Homo sapiens: one gene and its partner. Each later gene encodes a partner of the first gene's protein in a complex. Each region holds a gene or a part of one and is shown in the gene's direction. Other genes may lie near its edges.

Region 1 (3,911 bases):
ACCCCATCTCTACTCAAAATACAAAAATTAGCCGGGTGTGGTGGCATGTGCCTGTAATCCCAGCTACTCAGGAGGCTGAAGCAGGAGAATCACTTGTACCCAGGAAGTCGGAGGTTGCAGTGAGCTAAGACTGCGTCACTGTACTCCAGCCTGGCGACAGAGCTAGACTCCGTCTCAAAAAAAAAAAAAAAAACAGCTGCCTGAGGCCGCGCGCAGTGGCTCATACAGGATTACATGCCTGTAATCCCAGCTATTTGGGAGGCTGAGGCGGGTGGATCACCTGAGGTCAGGAATTCAAGACCAGCCTGGCCAACATAGTGAAACCCTGTCTCTACTAAAAATATAAAAATTAGCTGGGCATGGTGGTGCGTGCCTGTAATCTCAGCTACCTGGGAGGCTGAGGCAGGAGGATTGCTTGAGCCCAGGAGGCAGAGGTTGCAGTAAGCCAAGATTGCACCACTACACTCCAGACTGGGCAACACAGTGAGACTCAATCTCAAAAACAACAAAAACAAGCTATGTGCAGTGGCTCACGCCTATAATCCTAGCACTTTGGGAGGTTGAGGTGGGAGGATCACCTGAGGTCAGGAGTCTGAGACTAGCCTGGCCAACATGGCGAAACCCCATCTCTACTAAAAATACAAAAATCAGCTGAGTGTGGTGGTGCATGCCTGTAATCAGTCCCAGCTACTCGGGAGGCTGAGGCATGAGAATCACTTGAACCCAAGAGGTGGAGGTTGCAGTGAGCTGAGATCACACCACTGCACTGCAACCTGGGCGACAGAGCACAACTCCATCTCAAAAAAAAAAAACAAAAAACAAAAAAAAACACCTTCCTAGTGGAAATGGATTGAGGGCCTGGAGCTTCACCTGGCAAGCCCCCATCCACTCCCAGTAGCCTCGAGGAGCTCTGCAGGAATCCCCTAGCTCTGAGAAGCACAGCTGACAAGCATTGAAGTGAGGTGCTGTTGCTGGTAGACAGGCGCTGCTGTGTTAGGAAGCTGAGAATGCTTTCTGTGGCTAAGCCCTTGGAGCTAGGTCTTTCTTGTTTTTCTAAATGGCAGGCACACTTGTTTTGTTCCAGTTTGCAGAGGAGTCAGCAGGGTGAGTGCTTGGAGTGGGTCTCGTTGCAGCTCCAGACCCTGCCCATTGGGTCATATTCCTTTCAGGATATTTGACCTCTGACCAGCCAGCATCATTAATGCACTGCCCCCTGGCCTGTGAGCAGCACCCCCAGCCTCTGCCCCTCCCACCCTCTCAACCAGGTGGTGGCCAATGCAGTGGCAGCGCTCTCAGAAATTGCCGAGTCTCACCCCAGCAGCAACCTGCTCGATCTGAACCCACAGTCCATCAACAAGCTGCTGACAGCCCTCAATGAGTGCACCGAGTGGGGCCAGATCTTCATCCTGGACTGCCTCGCCAACTATATGCCCAAGGACGACCGCGAGGCCCAGAGGTGAGCGGGCTGCCCGTTGCTTGCCAGCCCAGCTTGAGGACCCTGGTCCTCAGGGGCTCCAACCAGGCACTGGGCCTTGGGCCTTAGTGGGCCCCTTTCTAGTGCTTTGCCCCATAACCCACCCTCAGACACACCTAAAGGGAGGCCTGCCTGCTTCCCACCTCTCCAGAGCCAGGTAGACAGGAGAGTTGCCTTGGGCAGCTATGGGCATACGCATGGCCTGGCCTTGGAGCTGGCAGAAGCCCAGGGCACCTCTTTTGAGTTCAATAGGTGGGTAGCGCCAGAGCCACTGCTCATTGAATTCTCACTGGGTGTCTGGGGCTCTGCCGGGTGCTTTCCACACTTTAGAGTCTTTAATGCAACTTTTATCATCATCCCCCACTTTCCAGATGAGGGAGCTCCAGCTTAGAGAGGTGGAGGGAATAGTGCAGGTCCCCTGGCTGGGGCTCACCTGACTCATGGTCTTAACCAACAAGATACCCTCCAAGTCGGAGGAAGTGAGGAGTTGCCATCTATACAGTATGTACTACATGCCAGTACTGTGCTTGTTCTTTTTTTTTTTTTTTTTGGCAGGGTCTCTGTTCTGCAGGCTGGAGCTGCAGCCCCAACCTGCAGGGCTCAATCAATTCTCCCAGGTAGCTGGGACTACAGACATCTGCATGCCAACATGAGCAGCTAATTTTTATATTTTGTATAGAGACAGGTTTTCTCCATGTTGCCCAGACTGGTCTCAAACTCCTGGGATCAAGCAATCCACCCATCTCAGCCTCACCCAGCCTTGTTCTTTACATGCGTTGTGTCAGTTAAGCCCCTAGCAACCCTGTGAAGTAGGCATCATCATCTTGATTCTATAAATGAAGAAACTGAGGCTCAGAGTGATTTGAACCTGCTAGGGGTTATCAAGCAGCAGAACCAAGATTTAGATCTTTCTCCTACAAAAAACATGTTTGTTTGTTTGTTTGTTTATGACAGGGTCTCGCTCTGTTGCCCAGGCCAGAGTGCAGTGTCACAGTCTCAGCTCACTGCAGCCTCAAACTCCTGGGCTCAAAGCAGTCCTCCTGCGTCAGCCTCCCAAGTAGCTGGGACTACAGGCATGCACCACCATACTCAGCTAATGTGTAAAATTATTTTTAGTAGAGAAGGGTCTCATGATTTTGCCCAGGCTGAACATGCTATTTTTTTTTTTTTCGAGACAGGGTCTCACTCTGTTGCCCAGGCTGGAGTGCAATGGCGCGATCTCGGCTCACTGTAACCTCCACCTCCTGGGTTCAAGCGATTCTCATGTCTCAGCCTCCTGAGTACCTGGGACTACAGGTGCTTACCACCATGCCCAGCTAATTTTTATATTTTTTGGTAGAGACAAAGTTTTACCATGTTGGCCAGGCTTGTCTCAAACTCCTGACCTCAAGTGATCCACCCACCTCGGCCTCCCAAAGTGCTGGGATTACAGGCGTGAACTATCACGCCTGGCCTGGACATGCTATTTTGGTAACTAAAAACAGAATGTTTCCCCTTGTCTTTCCTGTTTGCCCCGTTGGAATGGACGGACCCCAGCATCTGTGAGCGGGTCACCCCCAGGCTCTCCCATGCCAACTCCGCTGTGGTGCTCTCTGCTGTGAAGGTGCTGATGAAGTTCATGGAGATGTTGTCTAAGGACTTGGACTACTACGGCACACTGCTCAAGAAGCTGGCCCCACCCCTGGTCACACTGCTGTCAGCCGAGCCAGAGCTGCAGTATGTGGCCCTGCGCAACATCAATCTCATCGTGCAGAAAAGGTACTGAGGTCACCACACGCACGTCCATGCGTACCCCTCGGGGAGCCTCTTCTGCTGGGAATGGGGGCTCTCAAAGGAAACTGACCTGTCACCATGCAGGAAGTCTCAAATAGCTTAACCCAGAATAGCTTAACCAAAGTGGCAGCTTTGCCCCCCTGAGGGATATTTGGTGGTGTCTGGAGATACTTTGGTTTTCACAGCTGAGGGGGGCATGCTACCGGCTTCTAGTGGGCAGAGGCTAGGAGTGCTGGTCAGCATCCTACAGTGCACAGAATAGCCCCTCACAGTAACTGTCCAGCCCGAAATGTCAGCAGTGCTGAGGTTGAGAAGCCCTGGCTTAACCTAACTAGGAAGCAGGCTATGTAAAGACTAGCTTGGTGATTAAACTAGATATTGTCTTCATAGTCCACGAGCTGTCCTGAAATGGGCTGTCAGATTTTGTGTATCTGTGTACATTTCTTCGGGGGACAGAGTCCGTAGCTCTAGTCAAACTCTCTGAGGTTGGAACCTTGAGGTCTGGGGGAGAGGTACATCGGACTCACTCCAAATGCTGTGCCGCCCACTTCCCTCCCATGAGAATGGCTGAGCAGTGAGCTGCTGCTCCCAGGGCACGTGGTATGGTAGTGGGGGGTAGGCGAGAGCAGAAAAACCATTGAGCAGTGCTGGATCGGAGGGGTTC
Region 2 (3,911 bases), on another chromosome or scaffold:
AGCCACCTACAGGGATGGGGAGACAGTGAGGCTGGCTGATAAGCCATAAAGTCCTTGACTAATCCTGGTTTCCTGGTTCTCACACAGTGGTAACAAGGGCTTGCAGCCGGTTGTCAGCCAACAGACTGGGAAGGGTGGTGCTTCTTACAGGCCCTGATAACAGGAGAAGCCTAAATGACAAGAGAAGAGACAGGGAAAGCATAAAAGGCAGGCAGATTTTCACAGGCACAGCAATTGAAAATGATTCTGTTTAGAAGGCAGACATTCTCCCACACCCTTGAGGCCCAGGGCTCACTGCTGGTGTACAGCATGAAGTGGACAGGAGAGTTGATTCAGTCCATGAACATTTCAGGAAGTTAGAAGTCTATAGTTGTGGATTGCAAAATACATATCTGGCCTGCCTCCCATTTCCTGGCTAAAATACTTGGAATCTCCGAAGTGATGATGTCTTTTTGTACCCTAATGAGTTGACCAGTGATGGGCAGCCCCTACGAAACTTCAGGGTAGGGCTAGTCACAGGGCCAAGGCAGGATTAGAGGGTTTCAGCCCCACCCTCCAATTTTCCCAGAGTGGAGAGGGACTGAAGATTGAGCTGGTCACCAATAGCCAATAATTTAATCAATCACACCTATACCATGAAGTCACACTTTTGCCTTCAGTAGTTAACAGCATCTACAGCCCCGTGTTTCCACATTTGTACAAAGGAATGTTCAGACTGAACCACACTTAAGTACAATTTTGAAACAGCATGAGGCTGGGCGTAGTGCCTCACGCCTGTAATCCCAGCACTTTGGGAGGCTGAGGCGGGTGGATCATGAGGTCAGGAGATTGAGACCATCCTGGCGAACATGGTGATACCCCGACTCTACTAAAAATACAAAAAAATAGGCCAGGTGTGGTGGTGTGCACCTGTAGTCCCAGCTACCCGGGAGGCTGGGGCAGGAGAATGGCGTGAACCCGGGAGGTGGAGCTTGCAGGGAGCAGAGATCGCGCCACTGCACTCCAGCCTGGGCAACAGAGCGAGACTTTGTCTCAAAAAAAAAAAAAAGAAAAAAAAGAAACAGCATGAAATTCCTTGTTGATGGGAAATACCCGAAAGGCCTGCCTGGGTTTTCAGAGAGCTTCCAGAAAGCTGAATTCATGGAGGTTCCTGGAGAATGGCACAGCCAGGAGGGAAAGGTAGCGCCGTGTCTCTTCCCTCATACACCGCCCACTGCATCTCTCCATCTGTATCCTTTGTAACATCCTTTATGAAAAACCAGTAACCTTTAGTGTTTTTCTGAGTTCTGTGAGCCACTCTAGCAAATTAATTGAACCCAAGGGGAAGGAGTTATGGGAACCCTGATTTATAGATGGCTGTCCAGAAGCACAGGTAAAATAACCTGGAGTTTGTGATTGCCTCCAGGTAGACAGTGTCAGAATTGAACTGAATTAAACGACACCTAGCTGGTGTCTGCTGCAGAACGCAGAACTGGTTGCTTGCTTGGCATGTAGGGAGAAACCCCTGCTCATGTGGTGTGAGAAGCGACCTGTGTTATAAGAGTGTGTGAGAAACTGAGTTTGGGTTTTCCTATGTCCTCAAAATAGTATATTTTGAAAGCCTTCTAGGCAGAATGTATTAAAATAGTTTTTACTCCCTGAAGGGATGCCAGCAAGCTAGAAAGATTCATTTCCAAAGGGCTTCCAGTGGTAGCATGGCTAGACATGAGACATCTTTCCATTTGTGTCATACAGCAAGTTATTTTTGCAGTACCATATACGCTATGCGGGAAACTTTTAAGTATTTTATAGGTTTGATTTAGGTACAAATGGCCAAGAAGCTATCATCTATACTCATCCTGGGGATTGGGAACGGAGGCAGTTAGATGTGCCTGTGCTTTGTACCTTCTGTAGATGGGAATGCAGTTGCTCACTCACCAATCAAATTTATTGATTTATATTTAAAATACTATGAATACATCTTCTGGCAATTTTGGTGGTGACATTTTCCTTAAAATATTTGTACTAGCCAGGCACTGTGGCTCACACCTGTGTAGTGCAATCTACTTGGGAGGCTGAGGCAGGAGAGTGGATCACTTGAACCTAGGAGGTCAAGGTTGCAGTGAGCTGTGATCATAACCACTGCACTCCAGCTTGAGTAACAGAGCAGGACCCTTAGCTCTTAAAAAAATTTATACCTACTCATCAGCTGAGGACCTGGGGGCAGGTTTAGAAAACAGATTTTGAACACACATCCTTCCCTCCCTCTTGTGTCTGACATCACTGAGCTGCCACACTTTTGCCTTCAGTAGTTAACAGCATCTACAACCCCATTTTCCCACATTTTTATGGTCAAAAGAATGTTCAGACTGACCCACACATGAGTACAGTTTTTAAAAAGCATGCAATTCCTTGTTGATGCGATAGGTTTTTCGTGACGAACTTAATTTTTAGGGAAAGCACATCTGCAGATGTGTACAGTTGATCTTCATGAGCCCTATGGGCCTGATAAACATTCTTTTGCCATTGTTTTCTCCTCTCCTTGGTGGTGAGTCACTTGTGCAGTGCCCAGCGGAAGAGGGTGGGAGGCTGGGGAGGAAGGCCTGTTCTGGGCAAAGGAAGCCCTGCTTGATGAGCATGAGGCTCCACGGGGGCAGTGGCTGTGACGGTGAGTGCCACACAGAGCTGCCCACACTGGTGGAGGGAAGGCAGGGAGATACCAGGACCATCCGGAAGGGGCTGAGTGTCATTTGACAGGTGCCATGTGAGCAGAGATGTGAAGGAGTGGCCCGGGACAATCAGGGCAGAATCCCTGAGGTGAGTGCGCTGGCTGGCAGAGTTTGGAGACCTGTCAGGAGTAGGGTGCATACTGGGTGGGAAGCCTGCTGGGGTGTGCAGTGGCCCTCGGAGGGGGTCCGCGGTTCCCAGAAAAAGGAATTTGGTAATCTGTGGTGGCATTTTTGGGTGGCAGCACTGGCACCTTTGGCAGTGGCAAGAACACTTCCTGTCTGACCTTCATGTAGGGGAGGTCGTCTGATGTCCCAGACCTGTTATAAATATGAAAAAAAAATTTTTGTGCATAGTTTTAACAGGTGTTCTGAAGTTCCAGGAACAAAATCACCTTATAAATCAAAGATGACTGTGTATTGTTCTCTTCAGAATCACAGCAAGAATTCAGTTTCCAGAAGGAAAAGCTACAGTAGTTGCTTCATGGACATGGCTTGCCCTTGAGGTTGGTGGTGTCAGTGCATGAGCAGCCTGGTAAGGGTGGTTCTCTGGCCGCCACCCTTGGTCCTCTAGCGTGGTTGTGAAGTCACTTTCCTTTACTCCCCATTGCATCATAGTTGGGACAGAGCAGTGGTTCTCTGCCGTCTTGTGCGAGTGCTGGGATGCTGTCTCTACTTCCTTTTGGGTTGCCAGAGGCAGCATTTAGAGCACAGTGTGGGCATTATGTTGTGGACCAAGGCAGCCTATTGCAAGGACCTGATCGGGCGGCAGCCGTGGGGCAGCTCTGAGTAGAACATCGGGTCACCTGGCTGACTGGTGTGCTGAGAACACGCAGGAGGAGGCTGGAGACGGGGTTCTTGCCTGGGGAACAGGAGGGAGGCTACTCGCATCACAGCGGAGAATGCCTGTTGGGTTTGGGAGGGGGGTTTCGGCTGCAAAGCTGGCTGTCAAGGGGCAGGAATTGGGAGGAGGGTCTAAAGTCTTGAAGAGAAATGTGGGGTCGTTGTGTAGGGGCCACCATCACCTGGAGAGCAGGGCAGATGCCAGCGTGTGTGTGAGAACTAGGTCACTTGAAGGGAGGTCCCCAGAGTGTCCCCGGGGTGTGCCTTTCTCTCACCTAGGTCTGGAGTGCCTCCAGAAGCGAGGATTTCCTGCAAGGGCGGTGGCCTCCCAGGGTCTGTGGGGGGGCATCCCCGTCTCTTTAC

What was found.
Region 2: the proteins of AP1B1 (region 1) and ARF1 are in contact, whole or in part, in a cryo-EM structure (PDB 7R4H), measured with the Homo sapiens proteins. Residues at the interface, in NP_001118.3 of Homo sapiens: Asn23, Asp25, Pro52, Asp53, Val55, Asn56, Met58, Gln59, Met83, Ile85, Met86, Ala87, Val88, Asn89, Thr90, Val92, Lys93, Tyr121; in NP_001019397.1 of Homo sapiens: Glu17, Met18, Tyr35, Ile46, Thr48, Ile49, Gly50, Phe51, Asn52, Val53, Glu54, Thr64, Trp66, Lys73, Leu77, Arg79, His80, Tyr81, Gln83, Asn84.

The regions. Positions count from the first base shown.
Region 1 is NC_000022.11:29,353,971-29,357,881, reverse strand, and holds part of AP1B1 (AP-1 complex subunit beta-1), read left to right. Parts: intron 1-1,265; coding exon 1,266-1,456; intron 1,457-3,010; coding exon 3,011-3,232; intron 3,233-3,911. UniProt on the Homo sapiens protein: Subunit of clathrin-associated adaptor protein complex 1 that plays a role in protein sorting in the late-Golgi/trans-Golgi network (TGN) and/or endosomes.
Region 2 is NC_000001.11:228,085,482-228,089,392, forward strand, and holds part of ARF1 (ADP-ribosylation factor 1), read left to right. Parts: intron 1-3,911. UniProt on the Homo sapiens protein: Small GTPase involved in protein trafficking between different compartments. Modulates vesicle budding and uncoating within the Golgi complex. In its GTP-bound form, triggers the recruitment of coatomer proteins to the Golgi membrane.